Regions from separate parts of the Homo sapiens genome. Here region 2 is linked to region 1. Evidence: fine-mapped expression QTL. A gene starts in region 1. The other region holds a variant in brackets. All regions are shown on one strand. Distances are from middle to middle. Region 1 holds the start of C3orf70 (chromosome 3 open reading frame 70). Region 2 overlaps C3orf70 (chromosome 3 open reading frame 70).

What was found. PIP is the estimated chance that this variant, and not a neighbour inherited with it, causes the effect. A credible set is the group of variants that fine-mapping cannot tell apart.
Region 2: its variant is the best candidate, but not a certain one, in a credible set for the expression of C3orf70 in lung (TOPMed, PIP 0.53).

The regions. Positions count from the first base shown.
Region 1 is chr3:185,151,631-185,154,537 of GRCh38, forward strand. C3orf70 (chromosome 3 open reading frame 70) reads right to left here and starts at 1,430. Exons shown (of 2, transcript NM_001025266.3): 1 at 998-1,430. The coding sequence starts at 1,193. RefSeq lists a silencer at 836-1,055 and an enhancer at 1,476-1,615.
Region 2 is chr3:185,074,748-185,077,654 of GRCh38, forward strand. It overlaps C3orf70 (chromosome 3 open reading frame 70), which reads right to left. Exons shown (of 2, transcript NM_001025266.3): 2 at 2,091-2,907. Among named protein-coding and RNA genes, the nearest start is that of C3orf70, 77 kb to the right of the region's middle. RefSeq lists an enhancer at 369-869. The variant A/G (reference allele first, on the strand shown) is at 1,244.

The sequences.
Region 1 (2,907 bases):
GATTTGTTATGTACTGCATTCCTGGTTGTCAGCTATTTTTTTCTCAACAAAGAAAAATTCATTTTAACTTAAGATCACTTGGAAAATGTCCTAAATAAGCACTCCAAAACCCTCTATTACAAATATATGTGGAAACTAACTTTAGAATATATTTCTTAAAATGAATGATTCATCGGATATAGTCCAAATACTATTAGCTAATCAAATTGTGAAATTCTAATTAAATGGCTACTTAAGTTTAATCTATTTAAAAATCACAGGCAGGAGGCTAAACACAGAGAAAGGGTTTAGACCATTTGGTTCTAGCTTTTATAAATTGGTTTAAGACTATTAAGCTTACTTTCACTCATTTTATTTTGTAATTTTATAAGTCTCATTTATTTGGCTCTAAATTCTACATCTGGGTATTTAAGGAGCTCGACCTTCCAAACTGTTAATATTAACTTCTTGGAAGCAATCCCTCCCACATTAGCGCTTTTTCTCAATTTGGGTACAATCAAGGGGGAAACAATTGGATATCCAAGGGCTCCTTCTTTTAAATAGCAGCCCAGGAAGACAAAAGTGAGAAAGAAAAAGAGGAGCATCTTTAACCAGCAACCTTGAAAAAAGGCATCCCCAACAGCTGTCGCCAACTCAGCTGGCTCGCTCCCATTTCTCAAAACACCGCCTGGACGCCTTGGTCAAAAAAAGAAAAAGAAAAGAAAAAAAACCAGATTCCCGCTTCCCTGGGACAGGGAGCTCCCTTTTGTAGAAGTAGCTAAAGAAAGCGAGGCGCCCCACGGGATTTCATCTCGTCGTCAAGGCAGCGCCAACCCCAGCCGTCCGGCGCAAGGAAAGCTCCGGCGGGCCCGGAGCCCACGGCGGCCCCAGCCTCCGGCAGAGCAGCCCCGGCAGAGCCCGGAGCCCCGCGGCCGCAGAGTTCCGGCAGCGACCCCGGACGGCCCGGCGGGCGTCCCCCGGACCGCGGCGGAAGGCGGGAAGACGCGGCTCGACTTACAGTGACACCATCCTAGGTGACAGCACCAGTGCAGCTTGAAGCACTTGCCATGGCTGTGCGTGGCACAGATAGACAGCCCGTCGCACGGCTGGAAGTCGGGTCTGCGGGCGGCGCAACTCCGCGCCAGGGCCTGAGCCTCATCTAGTTTCTCGCTCTTCCAACCCCGCTCCGACGCCGGCGAGGCCGCCGCACTCATTTCCTCTCCCTCCGCGCGGAGCCGACACCGGGAGCCCGGGAGAAGCGACGTCTGGGTGGGCAGGAAGCCGAGCCGGCTGCGGACGCGGGAGGGCGCGGCACGGGCCGGGAGTCACGCCAGCACGCGGCGGCGGCGGGAGCGCGGCGGTCCCAGGCTCGAGGAGGAGCCGCCCCGGGCGCTGCGACCGGGTCCGGGCTGGCAGCCTCCCTCCCTCCGGCGCGGCGCGCGCCGCGCCCCACGCGCACACGCACGCGCACAGGCGCGCGCCGGTCGGCCCCGCGCGACGTTCCTCAGCGAGCCCGGCCTTCTCACACACACGCCGCTGGGGAGCTTGGCCGTCGGCGTCCCCGCCGGTCACAGCGAGGTCCTCCTCACATACTCACTCCTTCCTCGGAGAAAGACCCCGACGGAGGGCCGTGGTGAACACACACTCCTCGGCCGCTTTGTACTCACATGCACGCCAGCCTACATATGCACTTCCCCCCGAGTGACACTGGCCACCGAGAACTGACACACGCGTCCACACGCTCCACGGAGGGCTGCGCACACCTGGCCCACGCCCACCCGAACCTCCTAGTGGCCCGGGCCGGGTGCATCGCGTAGCGAGGATCTCACACACACAGCCTGTCCCCACAGGCGTCTCACATCTCCCTCGTACACACCTCCCCGTGTCTGGGCATGGAGCCCCTGGGAGGCGCGCACACGCTCGTGCACACGCGCGCACTCCCCCCACCCAGGGCGGGCCTCCTGCCCCAGCGCGGCCACAGGGCGCGTCAGGGGCCAGCACCGCCAACCCCTGCCCGCCTCGCCCCAAACCCCAGGCCAGTGCGCCCGGGCCTTCCCGCGCCCGCCCCAACCTTCGCCGGGACCGCAGCCCCTCCCCCTTCTCCTCCCACCCCCGCCTCCGTTGAGCGGGAAAGCAACAAAGCTGGGTGCATTGATGTGTGTGTGTGTCTGCGTATGTGTAGTTTGGTGTGCATGGGATGTGTGTGTTGCGTGCGTGTGTATGATTATTTGGAGTATGTATGGTGGGTATGCGTGTGTGGTTGTGTGTGGTTAGGTGTGTTCATGGTACATGGTGGGTGGTATGCGTGATGCAAGTGACTGGTGAGGTGTGTGTATACGTGTGTATGTGAAATGAATGTTATAACTGAGGTGGAGTGTGGGTGGTGTGTGTGTGGTTGAGTGTGTGTGGCGTGCAGAATATGTATATGTGTGTAGTTGGACGTGCATGTGCTTGTGCACGTGTTGTGGGGGTGGGTATGCTTAGTAATACAGAGTGGTGTGTGTATGGTATATGTGTGGCAGTGCAGTGCGTGTATCTGGCATGTCGAGTGTGCACATGGCATATACGGATCAAATCGGGTGTGTGTGGTACATAGGAGTGGGTGGGCACACAAACAGGACTCATGTATGCGGAGGACTCTGCCTTTCTGTGTTAGCGCCTGCTCTGGCCAGCAGGTGTGACTGACCCTGTGGTGGCTGCGGCTTCCCCACACAGTTGGCTCGCACTCTTCCCTCCTGGGGACAAGTTGCTCCAAATAGATTTTCCATGCCAGGCTCTGCTGCTGAGAACCGACCCCAGGCTGGATTCACTGAAGAGGAAACAAACCATTTGCTCCCATGGTGCACTGCTGGGAATTAGTGTTTCCCTGCAACAAGGCCAGAACCCAGCCTTGAACACAGAAGAGGAGGGGACACCCCCTCCTTATTT
Region 2 (2,907 bases), 77 kb before region 1:
TGACGTGCTTCCCACATACTCAGTGCAGCCTCTGAATTAGGCTGGAATTGCCTCATTATTCCAGGTTCTCAGGGAAAACACGCTCTGGGAATCCCCTGTTCAGCTCACACCTGGCCCACGGTGAACCTCCCCTCCTGGTACTGTGTGGCCTTCCCACTTTTCCCGAGAGCTCCGGAGTCCTGTCCGACCGCTTGGAGTGGTGATGCTCATAGACCAGGATGGCTTTTCCAGGTCCTTCTGCAGATAAATGGGTGTGCCTATATTTGCTCTGTGAATTTTGGCATTGCAACTCACACAGGCAGCTTCTAAACATGAGGGCTGAAATGTACTCTTGTTTACTGCACACAGTCCTGGTTGAGGCAGGTATGAGACACTCGTGGCCAGGTAATCAGACAGTCAGGATCTACACAGTCGCCTGAAGTAGACTGGCCCGAGAGGCAAGTCCAAAGCGGATGCTACTGAGGACATGCAATAGTTGAGGGAAGCAATTGGTATCAAAGGTCCCAATCCCAATGGAGGTAGGAGGGAGGGAGACAGGAGCAGCTGCTGCTGAAAGAGCCGACCTGGTGGGCGCGGTAGCTCACGTCTGTAATCCCAGCACTTTGGGAGGCTGAGGTGGGTGGATCACAAGGTCAGGAGGTCGAGACCAGCCTGGCCAACATAATGAAACCCCGTCTCTACTAAAAACACAAAAATTAACTGGGCGTGGTGGCGGGCGCCTGTAGTCCCAGCTACTCAGGAGGCTGAAGCAGAAGAATCGCTTGAAGCCGGGAGGTGGAGGTTGTGGTGAGCTGAGATTGTGCCACTGCACTCCAGCCTGGGCAACAGAGCAAGACTCCATCTCAAAAAATAAAAATAAAAATAAAAAAAAAGGCCGACCCGAGGCCAATTCCCAGGATGAGTTCTCAGACCCAGCGGCCACGCTTGAGCACGAGGTCATGCCTGTTCTCCGGACAGACTCAGATCCAGGTCAAGCCAGGCTGGCGCACAGAGTGATGTGGCACCAAGGGCAACCTCGGGCGATACCTGAGGGCTGAGCTGTAGTTCCCTCGAGGCAAGGGATGCCCTCGTGGCCTCAGCTGTGGGGCGAAGAGAAAATGGGCTGCAAAGCAGGGCAGGGTTTTGTTGCAGCGGCTCAACAAGTGGTAAAGCAGCAAGGCTGGCTTTGGAATCAGAAGTCTGGGGCTCTGACCTTGCCACTTCCTGCCGTGTGACCTTTAGAGTTAACTCTTGGCTGCTTCGC[A/G]AGAAACTCGCCAATATCCCTGCCCTGTCCACCACACAGAGTTGATGGGTCTAGCAGATAAGCTGCCATCTGGGAAGATGCTACGTAAACTGCAGGTCCCTGTTCAGACATTGTGGTGTTCTGCTGATCCACGATGCCTTGTATTTTGTCATCATCTTTGTCCTGGGAGGAATCACTGGGGTTTGACAACAGGTGACCAGCTAGGTGTCATACAGGGCCAGGATGGTCCCCCCGGATCCCAAGCTTTCTCATCTCCTATCTCGAGTCACACACAACTTCAGGCTGGGGACTGGGGAAGACAGGAAGAAATGAAGCCTCACCCCTTTCTCCAACCCACCTGGCCCATGAACTCTCCAGCCACGAAAGGGGTCACTCCTCCGTGGAGGCCCATTAGTTTCATGACGCACACTCCCAGCCCAGCTGCTAGTCTCTTCCAGCAGGTGCATGAGCAGGTTTGGCCACGGCCTCAACCCACTTTCAGGCACAGATCCAGCAAAATCAGACTCCATGTGTACTCACTGTCCTAGGAGTTGACATCGTCAAAATAACTTACTGGGTCGTTTCTGATTGTAAAAGTAATTGTATCTTCATTTCAGAAAAGTAGAAAATTTAAAACAAACACTATTAATCTTGGCACATTCCTTTTGCCTTTTTATTTCCATCAATTTCCCGTATCTCCCTGATTCCTGAAGAATTCCATCTGACCTCTAACTGCCCCTTCCTGACCCTACCGCAGGGAGGCTGAGTCCAGAGATCCTTCTTACTCCCTTCATTCAGCATAGAACTAGGGTGGGACAGTAAGGGTTAAGGGCATTACCAATTCCCAGTGACTGAATTGTAATGAGGATGAGATGCTAAATTAAAGTTTATTGCAGAATAAAAGTGTGTGCAGTCAGCATTTGTAAGAGGCTACAATGAGATGCCTTCTAGGACTTGGCAATACAATTAGGTAGAGAGTTAAAACAGTAGAGTGCACACGCAGATGAGATGCGCTGTCTGCAGGAATCACTTTAAAAGATCAGTTAGCTTTAGGAAAGGCAGAGCTAGTCTTGAATGCTAGTCAAGAGGTGATTAAACATGGAAGAAGCAATGGCCTCATCAGAGCATAGAGATATTTGCAGAGACATGGTATAGGGTGCGGGGTGGGGGGGCACTGTATGGAGGACAGAGAAGGGGACAAAGAGGGAAGCCTGTCAGTGTTTCTCCTCCACTGTGTTGGGACCAGGTGCACTGAGGTAGACGAGGCACTAGTCTGTGGGAAGGTATCTGCTGGGTTAGGGGGATGGAGTAATGCAGACAATGGGCCAAGAGTGCGGACTCTAGAGCCAAAGTGACCGGGTTCAAACCCTGACTGCCACTCATGTACGAGCTGTGCCACACTGGGTAAAGATGTGGACTTCTTGAGCTCTTTTCCTGATCTGTGAAATGGGGCTGCTTTAATCTCCCTCACAGGGTTGCTGTGGAGATTATGCATAGAAAGCTTAAGGTAGCCATTGAACTATAATTAATATTAACAAGGATTTTATTACTGATAATGACTTTATTTAGCAGTTCCTAGGAAGGTTGTTCAATAGACTCCAACCCTTGAAGCTGTTCTTTTCTGAGTATGGACTTGCCGCGCTGAGGCCTGGCCCCTGAGTCTTGGTGACCAAGCGACCCCCCCA